2 separate regions of the Homo sapiens genome follow, and region 2 is linked to region 1. The links come from fine-mapping of genetic effects on gene expression. A gene starts in region 1. The other region holds a variant in brackets. All regions are shown on one strand. Distances are between the middles of the regions.

The links.
Region 2: its variant is fine-mapped to the expression of TMEM9B-AS1 in esophagus muscle (GTEx, PIP 0.96).

What each region holds. Positions count from the first base shown.
Region 1 is chr11:8,957,107-8,972,962 of GRCh38, reverse strand. TMEM9B-AS1 (TMEM9B antisense RNA 1) reads right to left here and starts at 8,288. Exons shown (of 5, transcript NR_073431.1): 1 at 7,815-8,288; 2 at 6,919-7,059; 3 at 6,307-6,422; 4 at 4,922-5,124. TMEM9B (TMEM9 domain family member B) reads left to right here and starts at 8,521. Exons shown (of 5, transcript NM_020644.3): 1 at 8,521-8,754; 2 at 10,780-10,871. The coding sequence starts at 8,650. RefSeq lists silencers at 8,328-8,827, 8,868-9,057.
Region 2 is chr11:9,016,771-9,032,626 of GRCh38, reverse strand. It overlaps SCUBE2 (signal peptide, CUB domain and EGF like domain containing 2), which reads left to right. Exons shown (of 23, transcript NM_001367977.2): 18 at 1,702-1,869; 19 at 2,582-2,743; 20 at 5,066-5,263; 21 at 6,773-6,925; 22 at 10,672-10,751; 23 at 11,430-13,151. The coding sequence ends at 11,582. All of the region lies in intron 1 of NRIP3-DT (NRIP3 divergent transcript), which reads right to left. Among named protein-coding and RNA genes, the nearest start is that of NRIP3-DT, 21 kb to the right of the region's middle. The variant A/G (reference allele first, on the strand shown) is at 9,743.

The DNA.
Region 1 (15,856 bases):
GTACAGTGGTGTGATCATGGCTTGCTGCTGCCTCAACCTCCTGGGCTCAAGTGATTCTCCACCTCAGTCTCTTGAGTAGCTGGGACTACAGGCATGAACCACCAAACCTGGGTAATTTTTGTATTTTGTGTAGAGATGGGATTTCACCATGTTGCCTGGGCTGGTCTTGAACTCCTGGACTCAAGTGATCTGCCCACCTTGGCCTCCCAGAGTGCTGGGATTACAGGCGTGAGCCACTGTGCCCAGCCTAAAGCTCAGCATTCTAAAGAGTCAGAAACCTTTCCCTGGCTTGGATCCCAGCAGTCTGAAACTTGGCTGCTACCTTAGGATACTGCTTTCACTACAGCCCTCTCAAGGTGATTTTTTTCTCCCACAGTCCTCCTATTACTGGTCCTGGAGATGGGGTAGATGATGTTCTTGCTCCTCATTACTACTTCTAGACACGTCTCCTATCTTCCCTTAAAACTCTCAGCTTTGAGTTCCATACCATCAAATAATATCTCTTCTCTTCATTGCTATCATCTACAAAATCTACAAACCCCTGGGTCATCCCCTCTCATTTCTCAGTAAGTTTAGTTCACTGCTCATTTCATTTCCCGCAGCACTACTCCTGATTTAATTCTTAGCAATTTTTAATCTTTCAACACCCTGACTATAGGTTCTTTGAAGAGTAGTTTTCCACTGACCTTGTTCTCTGCTATTCTCATCCATTCACTCTCAGTCATACCTTAGATCTCTCTCGTTATTACCAAAAACTGTAACCCCTCCATAATCTATCTCATTATCTGACCACCACAGTCTGTCTTCCAGACATCTAGTAACTTAACTCCAACACTCCTTTCACTACCACCTTTTCATTGTCCCTAATCTCCAAGTTCCTTCTGTTCCTGTCATAATCAACTTAAATCCCAGGATCACTCATTATAATCATGCAACTTGCATGTACTTTTAACTTAGTCTACCCCTTTTTGTCATTTTCAGTTTGCAAAATCACAACTTTAAAGCCAGCTCTTTGCCTTTGTACCTACTTCTGTGCAGCAACTATGCTGTTTAGTCTTACTTTAAATTCATGTCCATAACCTTCAGGCCTTAATGCTGCCTGATAATCATATTTCCCTACTCTATATACCTTCCCATCCTCCTAGATCAGGAGTCAGCCAACTTTTTCTGTAAAGGGCCAGATAAATATTTTTGGCATAGCAGGTCATAGTCTCTTTTGCAATTATTCAGCTTTGTCACTGTAGCATGAAAGTAGCCAGAGGCAATATGTAAATAAATGAAATTTGAATTGCATTTATTTGTTACATGCTATGATGTAATATCATCTTAAATTTTTTTCCCAACCGTTTAAAAGTAAAAAAGTATCCTTAGCTTGTGGATTGCACCAAAATAGGATTTGACCAAAGGCTATAGTTTGCTGTGCTGTGTCCTAAATTATTTCACACCTTCTCTTTTCTTCCAACACTTCCTCCCCATTTTCACTCTCAGATGATGACCTTGTTTTCTACTTCATTCATCCACCACATCCACCCTCTTACCAGCATCTATATGCATATGTTCAGCTTTCCCTTCTGTTGCTGTGTTACCTAGCGCAAGATCTAAATACTATATAACCCACTGTTTATCTCCCTCACTAGAATCTAGTCCCAGGAGACAGTTTTGTCTGATGTATACCCAGAACCTGGAACAGTGTTTGGCACATAGTAAGTCCTCAACCAATACCTGAATGAATGAGTACTGTCTATCAGACTAGCATGCAGGCAAAAGTTTAGAGAATTTTACTCCAGGAGAACTTATCTCCGTTTTTTTTTTTTTTTTTTTGAGACGGAGTCTTGCTCTGTCGCCCAGGCTGGAGTGCAGTGGCAATCTCCGCCTCCCGAGTTCAAATGATTCTCCTGCCTCAGCCTCCCGAGTAGCTGGGATTACAGGCGCGTGCCACCATGCCTGACTTATTTTTTGTATTCTTAGAAGAGATGAGGTTTCACCATGTTAGCCAGGATGGTCTCAATCTCCCGACCTCATGATCTGCCCGCCTCAGCCTCCCAAAGTGCTGGGATTACAGGCATGAGCCACCGCACTGGGCCGGAACTTAACCTCTCTAAGAGAAAAGACCTACCTGTCCTGACAGTTGGAGATCTCTTTGATTATCCTAAGTTGTACTTTTTCAAATTTCTTTGAAGAAACACCCACAATAAAAAAAAAAAACTCCCATTTTATGGGATCAAACCAGTACATAATATGTATATATGATATGTGTAAGAAACCAAAGTTTCATAAAATAATTCTCTTTCTATGTAGATGTATTCTGAGGTGGTGTTTTCTATTCTGTTCTGTCATTTGGGGGAAATAAAACTGATTATATTGATTTCACAAACTACTAATGGGTTTGCGACCAGAAGTTTGAAAAATACTGCAGTATGTCCTACCAATTACAAGTCCTAAGTATGTACACAGAACTTTTTTTTTTTTTGAGACAGAGTTTTGGTCTGTTGCCTAGGCTGGAGAGCTCACTGCAACCTCTGCCTCCCGGGTTCAAGAGATTCTCAAGCCTCAGCCTCCCAAGTAGCAAGGATTACAGGCGTGCGCCACCAGCCCGGCTAATTTTTGTATTTTTAGTAGAGATGGGGTTTCACCATGTTGGCAAGGCTGGTCTTGAACTCCTGACCTCAAGTGATCTGCCTGCCTTGGCCTTCCAAAGTGCTGGGGTTACAGGTGTGAGCCACCTCACTGGCCAGTGTACACAGAACTTTCTATTGGCTTTCTAGTGCCCCACTCTTACATATGAATGGATGGCCAAGGATCTCTAGACGTTTAAGAAAAGCTTCCAACACAAAACAGAAACAAGCCTTAAAAATTCAACACAGACAATTCAAGAAACAAAAGAAAACATTAGCAATATTCTTAGAGTAATAAGATACTGCATCCACCAAATGGAACAGACTGCTATTTAAAAAGGGGAAGGGGGTGGACAAGAAAGTGCTTCCCTGGAGGACGTTATGCTGAATGGAATAAGCCAGGCACAGACAGACAAAGTCACATGATTCCTAATGTAGAATCTAAAACAAACTCACAGAATCAGAGTAGAATGATGGTTATCAGAGAGTAGGGGGAAGGGGTGGTAGGGGAAACAAGGAGATGTTGGTTAGAGTACGAAGTTTCAGTTAGATAAAGGGAATACATTTTTTGAGATAAAGAGTATAGCATGGTTAATAATAATGTACTGTATATTTCAAAATTGCTGAAGGTAAATGTCAAGTATTCTCACCACAAAGAAGTATTTGTAGTGATGGATATGTTAATTAGCTTGATTTAATCTTTCCACATTGTATACATATAACATCACTTTGTACCCCATAAATATATCCAATTTGTACTTGTCAATTTACAATAAACCTTTAAATTACAAAAATAAAAAATATTTTTAATTAAAAGAGAGGTTGACAAGAAAGTATTCTGGCAAATTTAAAACATAACAGAAATTTTAAAATTCAAAAGAAAAGCTGGAAGGTGGAAATCTTTCAGAAAAACAAAAAGAAGTGGAAAACAGGGTAGAAAGGATAAAATTATTTCAGGACAAAAGCTGTGCAGTAGGCTTAGAGAAAAACTAGTCCACAGTGAAGGAGGATGATGGGCTCCTAGAGAGTTGTCTCCAATTTAAAAAATAAACTGATTGATAGACTACTTGATGTGTTTCAATGTTTTGAAAGGACAGTTTGGAATAAATTGATTATAGACACTTGAATGCTAGGTACTTAAGAAAGTTGCATGGAGAAAGAGGCAATAGTTAACTTCAATCAAAATAAAGGAAATATAATCATATTATGCTAACTGGATCAATTACATACCTTTATAATAGTATAATGAATAGTACTCTACCTATATAGGGTGATATAGATAAACTGAAGGATGGAAGATGGAGAAATACATGTGTGTATTACCAGTCTTCAGAGTATAAACACATATCTTATTTCCTATAGAAAAAGTAAAATAATGGCCCAAACTGAAAAATTAAGAATTAGTAGTATAAGCATGCTATTTAGAAATACGGAGATAAATACCAGAAGAGGTAGCTGGGTGAATAGAGATTATATCTAGGGAGTAGAAACTGAGAGTGTGGAGGGCTGGGACAGGGTCTGCTGTTTTTCATTATAAACCTAGTGATACTATTTGATTTTTAATGTAATGATAAAAATAAAACAATATGATTAATGTGGTATTTCATTTATTTGAAAATCTTAGGAGGGACTGTATTCATTAAGTTTTTTTGTTTTGTTTGTTTGTTTGTTTTGAGACGGAGTTTCGCTATTGTTGCCCAGGCTGGAGTGCAATGGTGCAATCTCAGCTCACTGCAACCTCCGCCTCCTGGGTTCAAGGATTCTTATGCCTCAGCCTCCTGAGTAGCTGGGATTACAGGCGCCTGCCACCACGCCTGGCTAACTTTTTCTATTTTTAGTAGAGATGGGGTTTCACCATGTTGGTCAGGCTGTTCTTGAACTCCTGACCTCAAGTGATCTGACTGCCTCAGCCTCCCAAAGTGCTGGGATTATAGGCATGAGCCACCATGCGCCCAGGCTGGAGTGCAGTGGCATGATCTCGACTCACTACAACCTCCGCCTCCTGAGTTCAAGCGATTCTGGTGCCTCAGCTTCCGGAGTAGCTGGGATTACAGGTGCCTGCCACCACGCCCTGCTAATTTTTGTATTTTTAGTAGAGATGGGGTTTCACCATGTTGGCCAGGCTGTTCTTGAACTCCTGACCTCAAGTGATCTACCTGCCTTGGCCTCCCAAAGTGCTGGGATTACAGGCGTGAGCCACTGCACCTGACCTGTTTTCATTAAATATTCTAAGGTACTGGGAAATCAACAATATTGATTTAGCACCTCTAAAAGGAACTAAAAATTCTCCCCACTTTGGTACTCACCTGCACTGTGGTGTTTTATTTCAGGGAACCCAGTAACATCAGCAGTGGCACCAGCAGCTCTAGAAACATATTCTGTCCCCATAAATTGTTGTTATCATGGTGAACACCAGCAAGTGATGCACTTAGGTGGCTTTACAGGCAGCAGTAGGCTTTACAGTGGGCTGAAAAATCCCACTAAACAGGGCTGAGTAGGAGGGAGCATCCTAGTGGGTGCACACAATAAAGAAGAGGGCTCATAAGACGTTTCCAGAGTATGCTCAGAAATAACTGGAAGGATGTGTGTGTCCCCAGCCATAACCACTGGAGCCACAATACAAGGAAATCACCAATGTTGTGCATAACTCCATTTGTTCTCCTGGACTGGTGTTGCCTAGGCAAGTGCTGGGTAGATCAGAATGGATGGGGTGGAAGAATTAAGGGGCATCCAGAGAGCTATTTGATCACTGGAGGGGAAAGGGCATGGGGGGATGCAGACAGGTGGCAAAACCTGGGTCCAAGATATATTTGTCCCAGATATATAAATTGTCACTTTTCTCCCTCCCCTTCTGACTTGCACACTTACAAAGAAGGTTCCTCTTCCTTTTCTAACCATCCCCCACCAGGGAATTTTTCAGGCCTTACAAAGAAGGGAGAGGACCCAGGCCAGTTGGGAGGGTACACGTGGACCTACATCACTCTTTTTGAGGAAGTGAGTAGGGAAACCTAGTTATAAGGAAGCAAGGAAAATAGAGGGAGAGTGAGTACTAAGGCCAGCGCCGTCTATAAACAGAACAATTCCCGTGTGACCTGAAGGTCTAGGAAGACCCGAGGTGAGAAATCTTCACTCCCCTGCCTACTATGGTGCGCCGGATCCCGCCATTTGCACATCTTTGGGCATCTCAGCATCCCCTCTCATGGTCAGAAAGAAATCAAATGAGGATTCAAGTAGGTGCCTGATACTTTTCTTTTAGACTAACCAGAGGAGCCTCTCCCATTCCCCTTTTCCCTGGTCCCCACAAACATCATATTGTTTTAATCTGTCTCCAGGTATAACAATAATAAGACAAAGTCCTTACCCTCAGAGAGCTCACAATATTTTGGTGGAGGTTTGGGTATAAAGGCAAATGTGAAAACATAATTTTACTATAATGGGGTAAAGTTAAGAAAGAGATCTATGCAAACATAGAAAGGAGTGCACTTAAGTCAGTGAAGGTTTTCTGGCTTAGAAGAACCCTGACCTAAAGGAAAAGTAAGAGTTACCTAGATAAGAGCAGGGCAGAACAAGAGAAACTGATCCCTCCACTTCTATTGAGTCACCTGAAATTATATTCATTTTTTGGCAGACATATACCTCCCCCAAACATTCGGCTCTAGTTGTGCCAGTTCTTCCTTGTCAGCCCTCTTACCTTGGCCTGAGGCTTCATTGTCTCCAGTCAGGCGACTATCTCATAGTCACACTCCACTCACGGCAGCCACATTCTGTATTCCAGAACAGCACTTCCTGACAGCACTATAACATTTTCTAGCAGCCACATTTAAGAGGTCAAAAAACAAGTGAAATATTTTACTAATATATTTTATTTAACCCAACATATCTAAAATATTTAAACCATATTTTTAAATTACTGAAATATTTTACATTTTAAAAATATTGTCTTTGAAATTAAGTGTATATTTTATACAGCACATTTCAATTCAGTCTAGCCACATTTCAAATGCTCAATTGCCACATGTAGCTAGATAGTGGTTATACTATGGAGCTCTAAAATTCCGCCCAGACTGAGTGTGCTTGGTGTTTCTCCATTAAACAGATGAGGCCCATCAGTCTGAGGCACAACTATGTATTTTCTCTAAGTCTCTGTACCCCCAAGGCCTTGAAAACAATTCGGAAGGAAGAGAAGGCCTATGAGGTTTCAGCTACAGCAGGCACTCCCTTTAGATGCCAAGCCTAGAAAACCCTAAACTGATGCCTAACTTGCAGCTGAATCACCTTTCAGCAATCAGATTCAGTGCCTCACCAACACATTTGATCCAGGGAGTCTCCAGTTTGTCCTTTGTCCAGTAGAAGACCCACTACAAAGCCTTGATAATTCATCAAAGTGACAGCACCTTCACTGGGCAGTCTGGTGAGAGGACATCTAGCCCTGCCACCCTGGTTCCTGTTGGGAACAGTATCAGATACGTTGTGTTAGATTCACATGAATCTAAGAATCACATGGGCGAAAAATATTGAGAGCATTCTGTTAAAACATTTCCACAAATTGGGAAAAGACCATCTTTAAAAATCTGTTGGGGCCGGGCGCGGTGGCTCACGCCTATAATCCCAGCAATTTGGGAGGCCGAGGCGGGCGGATCACAAGGTCAGGAGATCGAGACCATCCTGGCTAACACAGTGAGACCCTGTCTGTACTAAAAATACAAAAAAAAAAAAAGAAAAAGAAAAAGAAAAAAAAAATTAGCCGGGCGGCGTGGTGGCGGGCGCCTGTAGTCCCACCTACTAGGGAGGCTGAGGCAGGAGAATGGCGTCAACCCGGGAGGCGGAGGTTGCAGTGAGCCGAGATCGCGCCACTGCACTCCAGCCCGGGGGACAGAACGAGACTCCGTCTCAAAAAAAACAAAAAAATCTGTTTACAGAGGTAAAAACACGGGTATTACATGGAGCATAATTTGAAATCCATTCCCTCATATTCAGCCAAGAACTACAGGCCCAGAGAAGGGAAGTGATTTGCCAAAGGTCATTCAACAAATCCCTAGGGGCTGTGATGATCCGTGTCCTTGCCATTACCTCCCTTGTCTCCACTAACAAAAATATTTCAATGGGAGAATGTGCCGATCTAAGGCACTCCTAAAGTACTTGCTGAGAATGACAGCCCTGGGGAGACAGGTCGGCAGCCCTGAACAGGCACTGCCTTACCCGGGCGTAGTGCCCCAATTCGCCACCTCTTGGAGTCCTAGGCGGAGGATACTACTGGGGCAGTTGTTTCGCCAATTCCACATCTCCCGGAGCCTGGCCTGGCCCAGCCCAGCCCCGTCGCTGTGACCCACTTCCTAGCTGCAGGCTGGACCAAGGGGAGGCACATGGGGAGCTCCACAGGGAGGCCACGCCCACGAGGGCAGCTCACAGAATTAGAAAGCCGACGGGGTGCTGTGGTCAGGAGGCGCGTGGGCGGCAGGTTAGTACTTAAGGTGCAGAGACCACCCCCAACCCTTTGACTGGCGGTGGGCATCCCGGAAAGGCATGGCTCGGCCAATTCCAGCCCCGTTTCCACGCTCAGCACCCGCCCTGCCTGTGCGCGAACGGCTCCGGCCCGCACGGGTCGCCAGAGGCGACTGTGTGACACTCGGAGTTTGCTGGGGTCTCCGTGGGCGGGAGGACTTTCCAGCGCAATGGCGACTCCCTAAGCCCCGCAGCTTCTGCGCCCGGGAAAGATATCCAAGAGATGCAAAGCTCTACTGGGCCCAGGCTGCCACCCCAGAGGCCCCCTTCCGTCCCGGGGCCGGGGCTAGGCCAAGGCGGGCACCAGGACTGCCCAGCCTCCCGGCCCTTCGCACTGGTAACCGGTTCCGGGGCGGATGCTTTTTGCATCTGACCCGGCGCGCCCGGTGACGCCTTCGCGTCCAGACGGAAGTGCGGGCGGAGGATCCCCAGCCGGGTCCCAAGCCTGTGCCTGAGCCTGAGCCTGAGCCTGAGCCCGAGCCGGGAGCCGGTCGCGGGGGCTCCGGGCTGTGGGACCGCTGGGCCCCCAGCGATGGCGACCCTGTGGGGAGGCCTTCTTCGGCTTGGCTCCTTGCTCAGCCTGTCGTGCCTGGCGCTTTCCGTGCTGCTGCTGGCGCAGCTGTCAGACGCCGCCAAGGTGAGTCCCGCCCAGCCTCGCTCCTGACGGAAGCTCCTCCCCTACCACCGGCCTTGCGGAAACTGGGTCTGCCAACCTGCTCCTTGGCCCATTCCTGACAGCCATACGCCTGGCCTCACAGCTCCGGCAGACCCCCGCCGCCACCAGCCCCGCCCCTCCCGACTGCCCGGCGGCACTCTCGCCCTCAGCCCCGACAGCCTGGCAGGCAGCGCCCCACGGTCGTCCCCAGCCCCGACAGTGCCCACAGTCCGGACAGCAGCCCCCCACCGCCTTAACATTTCCCTTCCCAGCCCCGGCTGCACGCATCTTACACTTGACAACCTTTTCACCTCCGAGAGCCTTTAACTTTCCACCCTAAGCTCTTGACAGCCCACCTGCGCCCTCCGCCAGCCTCACAGGCCCCGCATGCCCCAAGCCAGAATGATAGGAAGCCCCCATCTGACAGAGCCTTCCCTGTCAAGGGCCGACTCAGCTCAGCTCACCCCTGAACACTTCCCTTCCTGTGGTGGGAACTTGCCCCTCCTGGCCTACTTCCCTCCCAATAGGGCCTACGGAGCATCTCTCACCTGCTTCATATTCTCACCTAACTCCCTCCACGAGTCCCTTGGTGCCTTTCTTGCTTTCTCTCTTCCTGATAATTTAGTGGGTAAGGGAAGAACCAAACTGCAAGAGAGGTGAGGTTGTGGCCTCCCTGGTTCGATTTCTTGACCTTCTAGTTCCCTCATACTGTTCTCTGGTGCCCCAGCTCTCCAGACCTGCCCTAGCTCCATGCATACCTGTGCTTCCTCTTTGATGAGCTAGCTCATCATTGGGGGAGAACAGAAGGGATTCACATTAGTATGATGGGAAAACAGAATGACATTGCGTTTTTAAAAATAAGAGCTTTAATTTATAATATCTTTAAATGTAGGAGTGGGGAAAGGTTACAGGCAGGCAAATGTTTTTGATTCAGAGATTCTTTTTGAAACCATCTCTACCTCCTACCAGAAACAGGGACAGCAGCACGTCTCCTGACTTTGAAAACATTGCTGGCACCCTCTGCATATCTTGCCTCATAACTTTATGTATTGTGATCATGTATTTATTTTTCAGTCTCCTTTACTAGGGTGTGTCCTGGTTATGGGCAGAAACCATGTCTTATGCTTATCTGAATCCACCTTATTGAGCACAAGATCTAACACAGAGCAAATGCTCACTAAGTGGTTGCTGAATACGTTTGTGAATTGTCAATAGCTCTGCCAGACATATCACTGTATATAGGAGGAGTGGGCAAGGTCCTCTGGGGAATGATAAGCCACTTCCTTCTCAAACAGATTCCCCTTTGCTGAGGAAGCATCTCTTCTTTTCTCTATCCAGATACTTAGTCACCTGTTCCTCCACCTCTTGAAACTTGTTTTGTTGGTAGTTGTTCTGTCTGTCAACCAGGAATTAGAAGCAAAGTTTCCTGGGAAGAGTATACTAAACTGATCTCAGAGTCAGGCTACTTCCTGTGTGTACTTCCTTTCTAGTTGTAGGTGGGTGCCTCTAACATTTCATCCCTTCTACGGGACTCTGGCCCAACCCGTTTTATCAATGTCAGTGCCTTCTACCAGAGGGTGAAAGGATGATAGGTAGAATTGTGACCTTTTTTGTGAATAATTTTTAGTTTCTTTCCCATCCTTTAGTAATGAATATTCTTATTTACAGGCACAACTATCTGCTTACCATGTGTCTTTCTAGTGGCAGATAGATGGTAATAACATTAACATAATTTGATTGTCATGTGACCCATAAATATGGTTAATAAGTCTTAGATCATGTATTAGGTATTATTTCAAAATAACTACATGTAATATATAATGATTCATTGGCATTACCATAAAGGACTGTGGCTTTTAAAAACTGTGTCTGTTAAAGTTTTAAATGAATGATTTTAGAATACTTGGTATTCTAAAGAGGATGCTTGGCAAAATGTATATGGTACAGTTTTTAAAAATATTGATGATAAACTGTCAACGCACTATACTGTTTCCATTTTGGTTACAGAATTTCGAGGATGTCAGATGTAAATGTATCTGCCCTCCCTATAAAGAAAATTCTGGGCATATTTATAATAAGAACATATCTCAGAAAGATTGGTAAGTATCTGGATTACTGAATTACCTGTCACATTTGTTTCTGTGGTTGTCAGTGTTATCCCAGAATGTTCATCAAATGCATAGTTTTCTTTTTAAGTATTTCATTTGAAGCAAAAATGTGAAATTCTACTTCCATTTGAAAAAGTGAGAGTGAGGCCCTACGTGCATGATGCCTGCAGGCCTAAAGGTATACAGCCAAAACACTAAGACCCATGTAGGCAGAGTTTCATGGGAGCATATGACTGGGTTTGTGGCACCTAAACTACCCATAGCTATCTTGCTGTACTCCCTCAAGTTTTGGTGAGGGACCTTTCTCCCTCTTGCTTTTCAGTGGAAGGTTAGCAAGCCTCGTTTGTCTGGGTTATAATTTTTACAACTTGTAGGTTTTGATGATGTATTGCCAAGTATGGGAAGCTATGTTTAAAAGTGTCAGAAGGCTCAAGAAGAAGTGGAAATGAGCTATGTAGTCAGAGTTTCCCATTTGGTGTAAATGAAGAAGTTACAGTTGTGCCAAGATATTGACCTGTTCAGTCCTTGGGCAGTCAGGCAGGCCTGTGATGACTGGGGGATCCTGACTGACTAGCCACCAGCAGCCTTCTCTGCTTATCCCAGCAGACCTGACAAATAGCTTTTTCTACGTGTGCCATGAAGCAGTTGGGATGCAGTTGTATTACAGCAGGATGAATGTGTTCCTTCCCATAGAATTGTGATGTTTTATGGTTTGTAACCACGGTGGAAGATGGATGGGATAGGAATTTAGGAAAAATAGTTCCAAATGGTAGGAGCTTTCACGTGTATCTGATTTCATAGCTAAATAGCCATCAAAGAGTTAGAAAGCAAGATTAAATTCATTCAGTTAACAGTATTCCAACCTGACTTTAAAAAAGAAAAGGCAGCCTTTGAGTATGTTTAGTTTCTCTGATGCCACTGTCTGTTCTTCCCTGATACGCATTTAGGTTCAGTCTCATATTTGTTAAGTGTGTTCTTGAGAACTTCTTGTGAACCTCTATGTTCCACTGTAAGTGGTGTCATATTAACCAAGCGATTTGGCCATATTCTTAAAGGTTTTATATCAGGAAGTTACTTTATATGATACAAGAATGTTCAGGCCGGGCACGGTGGCTCACGCCTGTAATCCCAGCACTCTGGGAGGCTGAGGCAGGCGGATCACCTGAGGTCAGGAGTTCGAGACCAGCCTGGCCAACAGAGTGAAACCCTGTCTCTACTAAAAATACAAAAAAAATTAGCCGGGCTTGGTGGCGGGTGCCTGTAATCCCAGCCACTCGGGAGGCCGAGGCAGGAGAATCGCTTGAACCCGGGAGGCAGAGCTTGCAGTGAGCCGAGATCGCGCCACTGCACTCCAGCCTGGGTGACAGAGCGAGACCCTAGCTCAAAAAAAAAAAAAAAGAATGTTCAAATAAATCTTTATGTTACTTCTATAAATTTTCCAAATTTATTCAGTGCTTACAGTTTATTCTGTTATCAGTAATGAAATGCAATGCCTGTCTTTTGAGTAGCAAATGAACTCACTATTCAAGTGGTTAGCACTAATCTTTTCACTAACTTTTCATTATTTCAGACTCAGACAGGACCATATGTCATTAACCCCTGGTTATTAGTAAAAATAGCTTTGGCTTTGAAAACAGTTGAGGCAGGACATGGTGGCTCACACCTGTAATCCCAGCACTTTGGGAGGCCAAGGCAGGTGGATCACTTGAGGCCAGGAGTTCAAGAACAGCCTGGCCAACATGGTGAAACCCCGACTCTACTAAAAATATAAAAATTAGCTGGGCATGGTGGCACACGCCTGTAATTCCAGCTACTCGGAAGGCTAAGGTAGAGAATCGCTTGAGCCGCAGAGGTAGAGGTTGCAGTGAGCTGAGATTGTGCCACTGCCCTCTAACCTGGGTGACAGAGCATGACTCTGTCTCAAAAAAAAAAAAAAAAAAAAAACAGAAACAAAGAAAATAAACAGTTGAGAATAAGGCTTGCTTGGGGTTTTTCTTCCCTCTCTCCCACTCTCCCTTGTTTCTTTTCTGCAGCTTAGCATTTTTCTAGGGATAAGTTCCCAGCTGGCACTGAAAAATTTTAACTGACTTTACGGGGCAGGCAAGTTATGATTCACCAGAATTATGGCTTTACGAGGCCTCCAGTATCTGTGAGGGCCTAGATATAGTTTTACCTTTTGTTTTCTGGGCCTTTCATTTTGTCCAGTTTTTATCTTTAAGTCTTCATTGACTTATGCTGGCTGACTTAAAACTTAAGAGTAGTTGGAGTGCTCTAGTTTGTGTTTGGGGTGATTTAAAGCTAATGATGTGTTACTTTTGGCACTAGGGGGAGGTGTTGCCTAGTTCCTTAAGTGGTTAACCTCTGACTAGGTCTAGCTCTGTTTGTAATGACTGGTCAGCCAAAATCAACCTTCCTGCTTTCTCTCCAGCTGGGCACAACTTTTGCACAGCACTCAAGTATCTTTTTGTTATTAAAATATATCCTTCAAAAGAAATACTCAATACTTACTTAGCACTTAAAATTCCCAAGTCATTCTTAGGTATTGTTGCCAAAGCTTCTGAAGCTGAAGTAGGAAACTAAATAGATCAGTTTCATTTTCCCGAGGTTCAGAGGTAAAGAACTGACGTAGGAAGCAGGAGTCCTGGATTCTGGTCCTTTCTGTTTTTTTTATTGCTAGAGTGCAGTGGCACGATCATAGCTCATTGCAGCCTTGATCTCCTAGGCTCCAGTGGTCCTCCAGCCTCAGCCTCCTGTGTAGCTGGGACTACAGGTGTGTACCATCAACCTGGCTAATTTTTATTTTTGTCGACACTGGGTCTCACTATGTTGCCCAGGCTGGTCTCAAGTTGGCTTCAAGTGATCCTCACATGTTGGCCTCCTAAAACTCTGGGATTATAGGGATAAGCCACCATGCGTGGCCTGATCCTTTTTCAAATATGATTTTACTCTGTGACCTTCTCTAAGCCTGAGGCTAGATGAGCTCTCTGATCCTCAGATAGATAACACCTGTTATGGGATATAGTTCCCTCTGCCCATTTTGTGCCTGCATCCAGTTGGGTACATGCCTGGTCTTCTGTATATTTGGAACAGATATCACACACTTTTATGGTGAGAGTTGTGGGGCCTTACCCGTATTTGAAATACCATCAGTGGAAATTTAATTTTTCATTACTACCTTTGTTAAAATTAAATTACCTGTTAAGAATAACCTGGGCCGGGTGCGGTGACTCATGCCTGTAATGCCAGCACTTTGGGAGGCCGAGGCAGGCACATCACCTGAAGTTGGGAGTTTGAGACCAGCCTGACCAACATGGAAAAACCCCATCTCTACTAAAAATACAAAATTAGTCGGGCATGGTAGCGCATGCCTGTAATCCCAGCTACTAGGGAGGCTGAGGCAGGAGAATCACTTGAACCCTGGAGGAAGAGGTTGTGTTGAGGAAGATCACACCATTGCACTCCAGCCTGGGCAACAAGAGTGAAACTCTGTCTCAAAAAAAAAAAAAAAGAATAACCTAACAACTTCTATCATATACCGTTTTGGTTATTTTTTCTAATGCCACAGTTTAGAGGGAACAGAACATGAAAATATGAATTTCTAGAAATTAACTTTTTTTTTTTTGAGACAGAGTCTCACTCTGTTGCCCAGGCTGAGTGCAATGGCGCGATCTCGGCTCACTACAACCTCTGCCTCCCAGGTTCAAGTGATTCTCCTGCCTCAGCCTCCTGAGTAGCTGGGATTACAGGCATGTGCCACCATGCCCAGATAATTTTTTGTATTTTTAGTAGAAATGGGGTTTCACCCTGTTGGTCAGGCAGGTCTTGAACTCCTGACCTCATGATCCAACCGCCTCGGCCTCCCAAAGTGCTGAGATTACAGGCGTGAGCCACCACACCCGGCCTTTTTTTTTTTTTTTTTTTTTGAGACGGAGTTTCGCTGTCATTGCCCAGGCTGGAGTGCAATGGCACGATCTCGGCTGACCGTAACCTCCACCTCCCAGGTTCAAGCGATTCTCAAGTCTCAGCCTCCTGAGTAGCTGGGATTACAGGCATGCACCACCATGCCTGGCTAATTTTTTTGTATTTTTAGTAGAGACGGGGTTTCTCCATGTTGGTCAGGCTGGTCTCGAACTCCCAACCTCAGGTGATCTTCCCGCCTCGGCCTCCCAAAGTGCTGGGATTACAGGCATGAGCCACTGCGCCCGGCTGAAATTAATTTTTAATTGACACAATAACTGTACGTATTTATGGGATACATAGTGATGTTTCAATTCATATAAGATATAGTGATTTGATCAGAATATTTAGCATCTCAGACATTTATCATTTCTTTGTGTTGAAAATATTCAAAATCCTCCTTCTAGCTATTTGAAACTATAATATATATTATTGTTGACTATAGTCATCCTACAGGGATATAGAACACTAGAACTTATTCCTCCCACCAAGCTGTAACTTTGTTTCCAAAAAGTACATTTTGGTGGGGAAAGAGAAGGAATCACTCTATAGAGTATTGGGTGTCCCCAAGAGAATGGGTAAGATAAGATAGGATGGTGTAGTAGAGTGCTTGAGGCAGCCAGGAATGCCTAACGAAGAGATGCCAAAAGGAAAGAAAATTGTCCAACAGCTGGCAGGAGGACAGGAAAGCTTTCCCTAATTTTGCTGAAGGTGATCAGAGTCATAGACTCTTAATAGTTGAGGAGAATAATAATTTAGTTATTGCTTAGAATTGACAGATTTCTAGGAAAAATCTGATAGCACTGTGTTTACACAAACCATAAATAATTAGCCTTGAAAATGGGGTTGGGGAAATAAGTAACATTCAACAAAAACACTCATCCCTTTGTTAGTTTTTATTTAGTTCTTTGGAATAACCAGTTTTTGTTTTAAAATATTTTAGTTATTCTATTTCTCCTTGCTTTTTCAGATTTGCTCATTAAGAAAAGTGATTGTTTCTTCCTGTGTGTGGCTTTGAG
Region 2 (15,856 bases), 60 kb before region 1:
AGAGAAGCTGGGATTACAGGTGCGTGCCACCATGCCCTGCTAAATTTTGTATTTTAGCAGAGATGGGGTTTCGCTATGTTGGCCAGGCTGGTCTCAAACTCCTGACCTCAGGTGATCCACCTGCCTCGGCCTCCCAAAGTGTTGGTATTACAGGCGTGAGCCACTGCACCCGGCCTATGTGACCTTATTAAGAAAAATTTAGGCCAGGCATGGTGGCTCATACCTGTAACCCTAGCACTTTGGGTTCAGGATCACTTGAGCTCAGGTGGCTAACCCTAACCCTAAGACCAGCCTGGGCAACATAGTGAGACCTCGTTTGTAGAAAAAAATTAAAAAAAACAAAAAATAGCTGAGCGTGGTGGCACATGGTAATCTCAGCTACTTAGGTGGCTGAGGTGCAGGGACAGCTTAAGCCCAGGAGGTCAAGCTGTAGTAAGCTGTGATTGTGCCACTGCACTCCAGCCTAGGCAACAGAGACCCTGTCTCAAAAAAAAAAAAATGACAGCAATAAGAATATTAGTAATAATGGTTATTATAGCTACCATGTATTGAATATTTACCTATGCCAGGCATTATGCTAAGTATATTATATGAATTATTCACAATTCATATAATCATTACAACTCCACGAGGCTACAGTGACTCTTTTAAGGTCACACAGCCAAGTGGAGGATGTGGAATCAGAACCCAGGTCTGACAGGCTCCAGGCTCCTCCCAATGGTGTGTGTTCTTGAAATGCCATCATATCTATAACTTATGGGGGAAAATGAGACCACTATGATTAATAGAGGAGAGATGATTAAGAATATAAGAGATAGATAGCAGATTTTGATAGCATCTTGCCAATGACTAATTCCTGAGGAACATGTGCTTTTAGAAATCCTTTTGTTTGTTTATGACTGTGTTTCTTGTCCCAGGTATAACATGTGTAAGATCTAACTTAGTAAATATTATTGTTAAAACAGGGGAGACTCTTTGGGTCACTCTTTTTTTTTTTTAGAGACAAGGTCTTTCTGGATCACCCAGGCTGGAGTGCCGTGGTGCAAATATGGCTCACTGCAGCCTGGAATTCCTGGGCTCAAGTGATCCTCCTGCCTCAGTCCCAGAGTAGCTGGGACTACAGACATGTGCCACTATGTCTGGCTAATTTTTAAATTTTTTTGTAGAGATTTCGCCATGTTGCCTAGGCTGGTCTTGAGCTCCTAGGCTCAAGTGATTCTCCTGCCTCAGCCTCCCAGAGTGTTGAGATTACAGGCGTGAGCCATCAAGCCCAGCCCGGATCACTCTTTATATCAATAGGCTGTAATCAGCTGGGTAAAGGGGTACTTCTGGGTCTAATTACCAAATTGGTCCCAGGGCAGAGAACTCTCTCTCCTGCATTGCAGGGGATGCCTAGGCAGTGTGTAGGCCTAAGCCTGAGAACTACCCAGGCCTTCCCATACTTTGGAAGCAGTTGACACTTGACTTCTTGGTTTCCATCTTTGCACTGTGCTGTGTAGCCCTGTGTGTAAACAGCAGGCACTCATGTGCCATTGACTCAGGGTCAGAAGCACCACAGCATTGACTGTGTGCTCTCTGACTGAGGTGGGAACTGCGGTCAGCACTGGGTAACAGGTTGGACTGAAGTTGGTCTCATTTGGAGAGTGGGGAGCAAGGGTCTGCCTGGAGGCCTTGCTCACGTAAGGCTATTGGTCCTTCCAGGTCTGTGTCAACCTGGTGAATATTCTGCAGATGGCTTTGCACCTTGCCAGCTCTGTGCCCTGGGCACGTTCCAGCCTGAAGCTGGTCGAACTTCCTGCTTCCCCTGTGGAGGAGGCCTTGCCACCAAACATCAGGGAGCTACTTCCTTTCAGGACTGTGAAACCAGAGGTGAGTACTTGGCAGCTTGCCTTTTTCTAGGACTGGATTTCCCTTCTAAGTATCATGGGAGTCTCGTGAGGCTCCAGTCAAGCCCAGCCTGATGCAGTGCCCCAGTGGCTGGGGGTTCAGGTCCCAGCTCCACTCGCCCCAGCAGGATGTGCAGGGGGCACTGGAACTCACTGGACAAGCTGTCCTCCAGCCACCTTAGCCCCTTTGGACAGGCTGACAAGGGATGATCAGGCACTGATGAGCCAGTTGGTACACAGGTTCCCCTGGTTCCTTCCTCTAGCCCTCCTCCATCTCAGTGCCCTGACCTAGAGCTTCCCCCCAATACCCCTTCTCCAGAACCCCACTCCAGCTGCCTTTTCCCAGGGAGCCCAACTCTAAACCCAACCTCAGTTCTGCAACTGCCTGCCCCCTATACTCACAGACGTGCTCTGCATGAAGACTGGAGTTGTGATCATTGATGCCTGACTCTGCATGAACCATAAACTCTTTGGAGATACACACATATCTTGTTCCTCTATATTTCTCTATTTCATGAGCCCCATCCACACTGCCTATTTAGGGAATTAAGTGTTGATTAGCCCCAGATTGGTAGGAAAGCCCTACTTCATTTGCACATAAACATTTCTTTCACAAACTTTAAAATCTTTGTGCTGCATTTGATTAAAAATAATCTTTCTTTTTTTCATTCTTTTCACCCTCCCTTGACCCACAGTTCAATGTTCACCTGGACATTTCTACAACACCACCACTCACCGATGTATTCGTTGCCCAGTGGGAACATACCAGCCTGAATTTGGAAAAAATAATTGTGTTTCTTGCCCAGGAAATACTACGACTGACTTTGATGGCTCCACAAACATAACCCAGTGTAAAAGTAGGTCCCTCTCTAAGGCTTTTCATAGTTCTGGCTAAGAAGATAGGTGTCTGGGTCCACCTCAGAGCAGGGGGCACGGGGCAGAGGTCCCAGGTTCACTCAGAACCATGTAGATGTTATGAGCCCAGCTCACAGCCATGCAGACCAGCATGGAGAGAGAGCAGGGCCTGACTGTGCAGAGCGACTCATCTTTATTGATCCTGGCTACTTCCTCAGGCACACTTACAAGCTGTACTTGCCTTAATTTCCTCCCTGGGGCATAATTTTAGTCCAGCCTTGATCAGCATGCATTGCTTGAGGACCTGTTACGTGCCCAGCATTCTGCTGGGACTTGGTTGATATTAGGCAGAATGAGTCGGCATCGCTGAACCTGCAAGGAGCTCAGGCAGTGAGGCTGCAGAGGAAGGAGCGATTGACTCTGTCTCGAGAGATGAGGAAAGGCTTCTGGAGGGTGTGAGAAGGTTTTGATGGAGAGGGTGGGGAAAGAGTAGGAGAAAGAGCCTTATGTTTGAGAGAGCAGCTGGGGGAAGCACAGATCGAGGCAAGCAAAGGCCTTTTGGGAGGAGACCCCTGGACCTCAGGCTAGAATGTGCCGAAGGGAGTCTCAGGCAGACCAGGAGGCAAAGCCTCGGATGGATGCTGAGGAGACCGGTTTGTGTTTTATAGGAAGGGGGAAGCAAATCATTTAAGGACTTGCTGTCTAGGCTTTTTTTTTAAAGCCACTATTTATAACCAAAATTACAACAAAAACTCTGTAGTAAAGGCCAAAAGTAAATCCCAGCTAATCTTTAAGATAGCAGTCAGAGGAGCAAGGAGGCCCCCCCTAAACTGGAGGAGCTTGGGACTGAGGGGGGCAGTACATCATTAGAACTTTATGATTGAAAGATCATCTGGTTTTCTCTCTATTGCAAGGAAGTCCTTTTAACAACATCTTTATAAGTAGCCTTCCATCTAGTCTCTTCTTGAATACCTGCTGTGACAGGAAGCTTGCTACCTCATGATATCCTAGCTTGTTGGTGGATTGGACTTTAGAAAGCTCACAGTGTTAGAACAAGATGAATGTTCCCTTGTATTCCACCACCTGGCCCTTGGTTGGCCCCATGGGAGCCTTATGGCACAGTTCCTAGGGCAGCCCTTCAGGACTGAAGGCAATTCTCCGCCCCATGGCTCCCCCTTCCTCCTCTTTTCTTCCAAGAAGAAAAGCCTATTTATTTTTTTTCTAGTAATAATAAATCCCAGTTGTAACTAGAGAGGGAAAAAGTAATCCCTTCAACATCTTCTCTTGCACAGATTTACCTGACAGTATTAAATAATGAGCTCCTTGAGAGCAAAGACTGTGTCTTTCTCATTTCTGAGCTCTCAGAGCTTTGGGTGACACTTCTGGGATGAATGAAGATGCAGCTGGGTGCTGTGGGTGAAGGAGGGGTCTGTGCAAGCATGTGCACATGTGTGCAGCCTCTGTCTTTGGTGCCAGACGTAGGTATCCAGCATGCCCTGTACCTACTGATAGCTAATTAGAATTTTCTTCCTTCCTTAAAAATAAAATGTGGGTTGGGTGCAGTGGCTCATGCCTGTAGTCCTAGCACTTTGGGAGGACAAGGCCGGGATAGCTTGAGCCTGAGTTCCAGACCAGCCTGGGCAGCATAGACCTTGTCTCCACAAAAAAAAATGAGGAAAAAAAATTAGCCAGGCCTGATGGCACTTGCATATGGTCCCAGCTTCTTGGGAGGCTTGAGCCCAGGAGGTGAAGGGCGCAGTGAGCCATGATCGCACCACTGCACTCCAGCCTGGGCAACAGAGAGAGACCTCATCTCAAAATAATAATAATTTTTTTAAAAGATGAATAAAAAATAAAATGTGGTCTTAACCAGAGAGAAAAGTGAAAAATATATGTCTGTCTTCATCAAAGTTCTCTGAAAAAGGGTCAGATAGTCTCTGCAGAGCAATGAGCTCTGTTCCCCCTATTTTGAGAGACCTAGAAGTTCTGTCTCATGGGTTCTTCTGGCACTTGGACTTGGTAAACAAAATACTGAAAGCTAAATTTATCCTTTTGTTCACAATTACCTGCCCTGACCGTGAACACTTTCGGGCTAATGAGAAAACAGTGCCTCAGGAACTCAGAGGGGTAGACTCCTTGTGGGGAGCTAATGGTTTGGCTCCCACAGGGGGCCCTCTGGGAAGGACAGACTCATTCCCAGATGGTGTCATTTTCATGCCCCATTCCTGGGTGGCAACAGGGGTGCTGCGGGGCTCGGCAAGCTAGCGGTGGTCAGGACAGAGATGACAGTGTCGTGCCATAACTCGGGGCATCTCCTTTTTCAGACAGAAGATGTGGAGGGGAGCTGGGAGATTTCACTGGGTACATTGAATCCCCAAACTACCCAGGCAATTACCCAGCCAACACCGAGTGTACGTGGACCATCAACCCACCCCCCAAGCGCCGCATCCTGATCGTGGTCCCTGAGATCTTCCTGCCCATAGAGGACGACTGTGGGGACTATCTGGTGATGCGGAAAACCTGTGCGTCTCACTCCCTCCCTCCCTTTCTCAGGCCAGCTGGGAAGCCTGATGACCTGCTCCTCAGGCTTTCAATGTGAGGAGGCAGGCCTAGAACGTCACCTCCATATTAGAGCAGAGGTGAACATGAGTTTATAGAGTTGGTGAGAAACAAAATTTAAATGAAAGCCACACACTGAAGCGTCTTGCTGGGCCCCAGAGGTAGTGATCCTGCAGGTCAGTCTTCCCCTCTGTGCTCACTGGGGCGTTTTGGACCCTCTTCCACAAGGACCCAGAGAGCCAGTGAGGATCATGCAGTGTTGGCCCCAGACAAGGCCTCATACTGAGTTGCAACTGATGGCTTGGAGACTGACCGAGCCTGGCCAGGTGGGGACCTGTCCTCCTATCCTGATTCATGGTCCAGTGTCCATAAAGGAAGACTGCTGTCAACACAGCTTATGGGCAGTGTAATGAGGGGCTCTCTGCAGCCAGACTGCCTGGATCTCTGTCCCAGTTCCACCTCTTACTAGTTCTATGATCTCGGGCACACATTCTGAATCTTTCTGCACTTGTCTTCTCATCTGTTAAAATGGGGCTAGTAACAGTTGCTACCTTATAAGGTTATAAGGGCTAAAGGAGTTCATAGATGTGAAACACTTAGAATAGGCCAGGCACAGTGGCTCACACCTGTAATCCCAGGCTGAGGGAGGAGGCTGAACCAGGATTTTGTGACCAGGCTCGGTGAGACCCTGTCTCTATACATTTTTTTTTTTTTAATTAGCTGGGCATGATGGTGCATGCCTGTGGTTCCGGCTACTCGGGAGGCTGAGATGGGTGAATCGCTTAAGCCTGGGAGGTGGAGGATGCAGTGAGCCGTGATCATGCCACTGCACTCCAGCCTGGTAGACAGAGCCAGACCTTGTCTCAAAAAACAAACAAACAAACAAACAAACAAACAAACAAAGAATGATGATGACACATGGAGCCACTATATAAACGTTTGCTCTTCTTATTAGTGGTTAAAATGTCTGAAGTCAAGTATAGGTTTAAATCCTTGTTTTACCACATACTGGCTATATGACCCTGGGCAAGTATTTAATCTCTCTATTAAAAAGGTAACGGTTGCACCAACTTTCTGTGGTTTTCAGAAGATTAAATGAGACAAAGTCCATAAATTGCCTAGCATGCTGCCTGATCTTAGGCAGCAAATGGTGGTGATGACAATTAGATGACAGCAGGTCAGTTCTGGAATGGGAGGCCCTCACCCAGCTCCTACAGTGAACGGTACAGCCTGGGCTGCTGCTGCTTGCCAAGCCCCAGGTCTTTCAGGTGTAGCCTCCCCTGGGGGTCCACAATTACCAGCTGAATCTACTCTGTTTCCAGGACCTTTGACTTATGATGGCTCAGCTGGGCCTGAAGAGCTTTTGAGCATAACTTATTGTATGGTTTGAGTGTTTAGAAAGATGAGCATCTACTCTATGCCTGATCAGTGATGAGTCTTGAACCCCACCCTTCTCCAACTTCCCTTGGCAGCTTCATCCAATTCTGTGACAACATATGAAACCTGCCAGACCTACGAACGCCCCATCGCCTTCACCTCCAGGTCAAAGAAGCTGTGGATTCAGTTCAAGTCCAATGAAGGGAACAGCGCTAGAGGGTTCCAGGTCCCATACGTGACATATGATGGTAAGCACAGCCTGCAGCACATGGAAAGAGCGTCTCTGCTTTGAACAGAGCCAACTTCGGAGCCAGCTGGCAAACTGCTGACAAGCACACATGCTCAGAAAGGCAGGCAAGATGAGGGGAAAAGACATTGCTGACTCACAAGTGCCAAATTTTAACAGGCATTTGGGGACACTGACAATAGGAGGAAAAGATGTTTTATAAAATATATTAAAAGTGAGCATAGCTTGGTGAGTAAGAACATGGGCACTGGAGTCAGACTGATTAGCCTGGCTATGATTTCTCTGTGACTGTGTATGCCACCATCTCTAAGCCTCAAGTTCTTAATGTGCGAATGAGGATAATCATTAGACTTATTTAAGAGTTCAGTGAGAGTTCCTAAAGGACGTGAGGCAGTGCCTGGCACATAGCAATTGTTCAGTAAATATTAACTTCTGATGATTGTGGCTTTTATTAGGTAGAATCCTGAGGCAGGGAAGGACCTTAGTTCTGGTCCTGGCTTTTTCACTGACTCACTGTGGGATCTTGGGCAAGTCAGATGACTTCTGTTTTAATTTTCTTCATGTTAGATGAAGAGGTGGCCCATCTGAGCCCTGGGGCTCTACCTAGCTCTGAGACTTGGTTGGAAAACATTGACTAGGAGCATAAAATGAACTGGATCTTTGTCCTGGAGGACTACACAGTCCTGTAGGAGAGGAGTCATTTGTTTCTTCCTGAGCTTATTTGTTCACCTAGCCAACAAATATTTAATGAGCATCTACTATGTCAGGCATTGGCCTAAGTGCTGGAAACAACATGGTTAGTGACAGAAACACAAAATATATATATTGTTATAGCTGCTATAACAGCCCAAAGCCCTATGTGAGCATGGAAGCAGCAGCAGCAGTTAATTTTACATGAGCTTTTAGAAGGAATAGAGCAAAGTCTTGAGAGATGTGGGTCTTGAAATAACATATACATTTTGAGCATAAATGGGGGAGAAGGACATTCAGAAAGAGGGAAGGACATAAGTCAAAGGATGAAGTACCCCGGTGTACGTGTGGACTGACGAATGGTCTTATTTGGTCAGTGGGTTGGGTGTGTGGGGCTTGGCAGTGAGAGAGGAGACTAGAAGGGAATGGGGTTCAGCTGTGAAGAGCCTTCAGGGCCAAGCTCTGGAGGATAGACTTAATCTTAGAGGAAGCCACTGAAGGATTTTAGGATGACAAGTGCCAAAATTGTTTGGGAAGACAATATTCTATGGCTTTCCTAAAAAGTAACAAAAGCACGGATCATCATCTTTGTCCTACAGATGCCTGAAATAATGTCAAACAAACACCCAAGACAAGGAGTTTTAGTATCTCTTGGGGTGGACCCAAATGCCTCCCACATGGCTCTGCTGAGAGAGACAGAGAGCCTCATCTACCCAAAAGCAACCAACTGGCAACCTCTCCTATCTGGAATCAGGAAGAAAGCAAAAAGACACTGAGACTTCAAAATAAATATGGCTGTTCTCAACTCTGCCTTTGTGACACATGAAAATGTCTTGATTTTTTTTAAAATGAAAAAGAGTTGTAGCTCCAACTGGGGAAAATTACGCATAATGCAGTGTATGCCCACGAGAGTGAGTCTTGCATGTGTCACAGTAGAGAATAGTTGGAAACTGCTATTTTCCCCACAGAGAAGCTCCCAAGGCCTTCACTCAGAGTTTTTTTTTTTTCAAACATATATTTCCAAAAAGTTTGATATCTTCTTTTCAAACCCAGAAGGATAGAAATCACATTTAGAAGGTGCACATGAGGCTGCTACAGACGGGCCCTCTGAGCGCTGGACAACGGTGAGAACTGTAGCTGGGGCTAACACACATTGAGCATTGCTGACTGCCAGGTACATGCTGAAGTGACTTTTACATGGTGCTTTCCTCACAATCACTCCATAAAGTAGACTTGATTATTTCCTGATTTTATAGATGAGGCCATTCAGGCTTAGAGATTTAAGGAACTGACCTAAGGTCCCAGCATGGCAAGGTTGCAAAGCAAGGTTTGAACCAGGACTGTGGGACTCCAGAGCCTGGATTCTTACCTGTAACTTTCCTGCGTTTCTAATGAGTTGGAGCAAGTAAGGAAACACAGTAGTTCTTAAAAGCAGAAGAAATATTTTTTTTAAACGATAGCAGTCGGGAAGCATTTGGTGGAGTGGCAAACAGCTGTCTAGTTTTCTATTACACCAGAACGCAGCACAGCAACCGACATTCTTAATGGTAAGTCCCATCAACAAAAAGAGGAGAGATACTGCCGCAGAGGAATTCAAGATGAAAAGAAAATGTATTCTCATATTTTATATTCACTAAAATAAAAGAAAGACACCACACTAATGGAGTACCAATGCTATTGTAAACATATCGAATTAGTAATTGTGACTATTATACCATTACTTTCCATTTGCCATCCCTTAACTGAGAGAAACTTTTCAAGAGTTCCTCTCACACAATTTCAATGATGTTCTCATAATGTGTTTGGCTTTGTCGCACATGATATGCATACAAAGAGGCATTTTTTCTGTGTCTGGAATTTGGAAAAGATTGTGCTTTGCATATGCTTAATTTGAATGATGCCTATAGGAAGTAAGCTAGACTTCAAAGGGGGAAGATTGGCATTTGGAGAAGTACAGCATGCACTGCATTTAATGTGTATATCAGGACAAAAAATATTAATGAGAGAACACACACAGTTTTCTTCCTCCCCGACCAGCCAAATTCTCCACCCTCCAGCCCCATTCAAATAAAGGAGAGAAGAGTCTTTCTTGGTGGATAAGAAGCTTGATTGTTTTACATAATACAAG[A/G]ATAGAGAAAAAAGCGGGAGGTGGGGAGGTGAGAGGGAAAGGAGAGCCTGATGAGCTCAACAGGAAGTGAGTATAGACAGAGAAGAGAAGACCAAGGACTAAGCCCTGGGACCCTCCTTTGGTAATAGGTCAGAGAGAAGAAGAAAAGCAAAGAAGCCTCAGAGAAGTAACCGGTAAGGTAGGAGGAAAACCAAAGAGCATGGTGTCCTGGAAGCTCAGTGAAGAACTGGATCAAGGAGGAGGAGTGACCAGCCAGGTCAAAAGCTACTGATGCATCAAGGAGGATGAAGACCAAGAACTGGCCGTTGGGATTTAACAACATGAAGGTCATTGCTGGTCTCACCAAGCAGTTTTGGAGGAGTGATGGGGGCCAAAGCTGATTGGACTGGGTTTAAGAGAGAAAGAAAGGAAAAGAATTAGAGACAGTGGGTGCTGACAATTTTTTTAAGGATTTTTGCTGCAAAAGGGAGCAGGTAAGTGAGATGGAAGCTGGAGGGAGAAATGAGGTCAAGGGAGGGATTTTTAAAGTCAGAGACATACAGCATTTTTGCATGCTGGTGGGAGAGACGAATAGAGAGAAAAATGTATCATGTAGGAAAGAAAGAGCAGAATTACTAGAACAATGCTTTTGATTTGGGGAGAGAAGATGGACCTGGCATGCTAAGTGGAGGGATGAGCCTGGACTGGATGCACAGAGGCTCGTCTGAGGGAAGAGGGGACGGGGAAGATGGGTGCAGATGCTGGTAGGTGAAGAGAGGTGGTGGTGGGAGTCTGTGGAAGTTTTCTTCTGACTGTCTTCTCAGTAAGCAGAATGGTAAGTGATAGCAGCCACAGAAGGGGCATTTCTCAGAACCTTATCAAAAAGTGAAAGAGTGAGTTTGGAAGCAACTAAATCATAAGAATGCAAAACATGTTCTTTATTCCAACAGAGGACTACCAGGAACTCATTGAAGACATAGTTCGAGATGGCAGGCTCTATGCATCTGAGAACCATCAGGAAATACTTAAGGTGAGTGCCTGGCTCAGGTGGACATGGCAGTTATCCACAGAGCTTCCCGAGTACTGTTGGAGAAGGCTTCTCCTCCTGCTCCTTGTTGCCACCTTTCAGACACGGAGCCTGTCCTGGGCCAAGGTCAGTTTTATACCTTCACCAGACTTAATTTTTAAAAAAATCAGGTTGCTGTCTTTAGTGTTGTCAAGTGAAGTTGTATTTTTCAATTTGGAAACTTGTGGAGGGGCAGGGAGAAATTTGCTTATAAATCCAAACCAACAGCAAATAATGTTTTTCTATTAATTCCAAATAGTTGAGGATCCTTGGCTCTTTATGTATACTTCAAGCCTAAAATTCACCAAAGTTTAAATACTTATAAATAATTAGCAATAAACACTTGTGGTATCACTAATCCTACAAATACTCCCAAATCCCAGTGTTGCATTCATCTGGTTGGGAAAAAGAAAACAGGATTTTACATATTAAAGTTTTATTTATAAAAGTAATTCATACTTCTTAAAACTAATTAGGAAAAATAAAAACTGGAAAGAAGATAAAAATCAGAGGAAACAATTTTTGCAAGTGTTTTTCAGCTAAGCAAGCTACGGCCTAATACTGGGTCATTATAGTTCCATGGGCAAAATGTCAGCATATTTAAATATTTTGGCCCAGTAACAAAAATTCTGTTCTTTTTAGGATAAGAAACTTATCAAGGCTCTGTTTGATGTCCTGGCCCATCCCCAGAACTATTTCAAGTACACAGCCCAGGAGTCCCGAGAGATGTTTCCAAGATCGTTCATCCGATTGCTACGTTCCAAAGTGTCCAGGTTTTTGAGACCTTACAAATGACTCAGCCCACGTGCCACTCAATACAAATGTTCTGCTATAGGGTTGGTGGGACAGAGCTGTCTTCCTTCTGCATGTCAGCACAGTCGGGTATTGCTGCCTCCCGTATCAGTGACTCATTAGAGTTCAATTTTTATAGATAATACAGATATTTTGGTAAATTGAACTTGGTTTTTCTTTCCCAGCATCGTGGATGTAGACTGAGAATGGCTTTGAGTGGCATCAGCTTCTCACTGCTGTGGGCGGATGTCTTGGATAGATCACGGGCTGGCTGAGCTGGACTTTGGTCAGCCTAGGTGAGACTCACCTGTCCTTCTGGGGTCTTACTCCTCCTCAAGGAGTCTGTAGTGGAAAGGAGGCCACAGAATAAGCTGCTTATTCTGAAACTTCAGCTTCCTCTAGCCCGGCCCTCTCTAAGGGAGCCCTCTGCACTCGTGTGCAGGCTCTGACCAGGCAGAACAGGCAAGAGGGGAGGGAAGGAGACCCCTGCAGGCTCCCTCCACCCACCTTGAGACCTGGGAGGACTCAGTTTCTCCACAGCCTTCTCCAGCCTGTGTGATACAAGTTTGATCCCAGGAACTTGAGTTCTAAGCAGTGCTCGTGAAAAAAAAAAGCAGAAAGAATTAGAAATAAATAAAAACTAAGCACTTCTGGAGACATAATAATGTACATTTATTGCCAGCCTTCCTCGTTGCAAGCTTCCACCCTGCAGCAAATGCACTATGCTGACTCTCGCACCTTCAGCTGTGCCCTCTGACACTCTGCTGGCCATTGCCTGAGGGACTGGGGAGTTCAGGTGAAATGTAATTTCCTCAGTGGATGAGAATCATCAATTGTCATGAAAAGGCGATTTCACCAACCCTGAGTCGGTATTGCCAAGGGTTCTACTCCCCAAGTGGGCTTCCCATCACAAGGGATCTGAGGTCCAGGTGGGTGTGGTGAGGCCCAGCCTGTCATGTATGCCTTCCTTCCCCAGTCTCAAATGTGAGAGACGGACTCTGCTCCGTGGACATGAGCAGCCCCTTGAAGGGTGGTCTCATTCTCTAACAGTAACAGCACTGCCAGAAACACCCCCTGAATGCCACACGATCATCTCACTTTGGGTCAGGCCAGCAGGGCCTCACGATCATTTCTTGAACTTGAATTTTCAGTGTTATTGAATCTTTAAACATTTAAATCCCCAAGCAAAAATCTCATTACAGTGAATAAAAAGGAATCCAATCAAACAAGCCACCACTTCCCTAATGGATGGACTACCTACAACTATAGTGTTTTGTTATTTCAATAACAATTCTATGCACAGCCAATTCTCCATACCAAAGTACTAAAAAAATGTTTAACAAGCATTTTTGAAGAAAACAAAGAGAACTTCATTATGGTTAAACTTGCTTTTCATCTCAGTGTTGCTTTTTTTAACCTGTTAATAACATTGATTCTTAAAAAGTCCTAATCAAACTTCTTTATTTGGATGGGCCCTAAATATTCATTTTCAGATTTCTCTTCAAAAGTTTGAACATCATCATTAAAAAAAAAATAGCATTAAAACAAGCACTTGGACTTTGTTATACTGGAGCTTGGCCTATATTTCTGAGTCTAACCATAAGATGAAAATTCGAATGTCACATAAACCCGAGTTAGTGACCGCACTGATGTGAAGGTGAGATGAGCTGAGCTGCACCATTCTGTCCAGGCATGTTAGCAACTTTGTGCTCATGACTGTGTGATCCTGTCTTGCTGATTTCACAAGAAGGCTAGGGATGGGAATACTCTGGGGGTTGGAAGGAGGCTGCATAAACCCGGTCACTATGGAGGAGCATCCTCCACGGGGCAGCCCCATGCACCAGAGCTGTGTTGCTGGTACACGCACAAACCACTGACGCACAGGAGGTATAAAGAGGAGCTTCCTCTCTATTCCCTCAACTACCTTAAGAGATGCTGTGATCCTGTTGGGGGCTGGCTATCTGGAGATACTATTTCTACCTGCTACATCAATATTTATCAAACTTCTGCCTGGTACTCTAGGCCCTGGGGATGCGGCGATAAGACAGACAAGGTCCCTGCCCTCATGAAGCTTACATTTTAGAGGGAAGAGACAGACAAAGAACAGATAAATCAACATGAAAAGTAGCAGCTAGTGGTAAGAGCTATGTTGAAAATTAAAATAGGTTACTGTAACAGATGATTGTGTGGCTACTTTAGGATTGGGGATTATAGATGGCCTCTATGCGGAAATTACATTTCAATTGAAAACTAAATGGCAAGAAGAAACCAGTCTTGGGAAAATTAGGGGGAAGAGCTTTCCAGAGAGAGGAAAACCAAGTGCAAAGGCTGTCAGGCAGGAGCAACCATTTGTGTATATTGTAGTCTAGTGAGAAGGCAGGTCGTACAAGATGAGGCTAGAGAACCAGACACGGCCAGATCACATCGGGCTTTGGAATCTATAATGAGGGGTTTGAGTTATTTCTAAATATGTTGCAAACTTTTGAATGGATTTAAGCAGAGGAGTGAGATAATCTGATTTATGTTTTAAAAGGGTAGCTGTGGCTACTGTGTGAATAGGAAGCCAGCACGGAGGCAGAGAGAGTTATTCACAGACTACTGCAACAGAACAAGCAGCCATCCAGTTGGCAGATGAAGGTATTGTCTGGATTAGGGTGTTGTAGTGGAGATGAGAGAAGTAGAAGGATTCTGGATGTGTTTTGGGGGACAGTCAACAGAATTTGCTGATGGGGATTGTATGGAAGTGCTGAGGGAAAGAAGGAAGTCAAAGATGACTCCTAGTTGCCTAAGAAACTGGTAGATGGAGGAGACTAGGAGGAGCAGGTTCGGGATATGCAGCAGTTTTAAAACATGTTTGCAAATTCTTTGAGGTTCCTTCCATGGACAGTTGGGGTCTGTGTCACCTCCCCTTGACTCTGGGCTCTGTGACTGCTTGACCAATATTAACATGGCAGAAGTAATGCTTTACGAGGCCCAGGGCTTAAGACACTAGCAGCTTCCACTTCCTCTCCTTAGGACACTCACACTTGAAACTCAGTCACCACGTCATGAGGAAGCAAGCCATAACAGCCTGTGGAGAGGCCATGTGGAGAGGAACCACAGTCCCTCCACCCACCGGCCAGGCTGAGCTTCCAGGCGACAGCCAGCAAAACTTGCCAGCTGCGTGAGTAAGCCATCTTGGAAAGGGATTCTCCAGCTGCTCCAGCTGACACTTCATGGAGCAGTCCTCATTGAACCACAGAAAAATTAGAGATTTGTGTGCAAAATTAATGATTATTATCTTAAATGATTGATAGGTTTTGAGGTGACTTCTTATGCAGTAATATAACAGTGAAAAGGGGAGATGGTTAAGAGTTCCATTTTGGCCATTCTAGGTTCTAGGTGCCTATCATATGTCCAACTGGAGGGTTCAAATAGGCAAATGGTTATACAAAGCCCCAGGAGAGGTCAGGGCTGGAATATAAGTTTTAATGTCACAGAGTAAAGGCATGAGACTTTACCCCGGTTAAGGTCACCTGGGAAACATGTAAATAAAAGAAGACCGGGGAACTCTTAATTCTGGGATTTCCTGTGTGGGCACAGGAACCAGGACTTTGAGGAGCTGCGTATTAAGTAAACAGGAAGAGGTCAGAGCTGAGCTTCCATCTTCCCTCCAAGAGAGCTAGTTCTATGGGTGAACCCTGAATGGGCATGGATCTGTACAGTCCTTCCTTCTAGCTGTAGATATTGTTCTTTAGCCATTTACTGAAGTGCTGCATCTATGGATTTAACAACATCTCCCTTGAATTTCCAATGCTAATAAAAAAGTGTTTGCCTTTTCACACTAACAGACAATTATCTTCACTTTGGAAAATTGCTTCCTCTGAATCATGCCCTGAGCTGTTAAGTGTGTCGTCTGTAGGCACTCACTGGATTTAGGTTTGCAGGTGATATTAAAATGTCATGTGGCAACCTGGAAAAGGCAGTGGCTGCACAGCACAGTGCAAGGACTTGCTTACCCTCCGGCAGATCTTTGCAGGAAGATGCACCGGAGCTGTTGCCTGCAGCTGACCACCACAGCTGGTGGGCCTATGTGCTGGAAAACCCAGGGGTCATTCCAGGCCCAGCTGTAATCTTCTTAGCCCTGAAGAGATGCCTCTTACTGTCAGCATCTCTGCTTCTTTTCACACAGCAGGATACGTCTTGGAGCCTTACTCAAGTCTGCACTACTTCTAGCCAGCATTTGGGAGGCAAATGGACTAGCTGAGGCTGGAGTAAAGCAGTTCCTCACCAAGTTG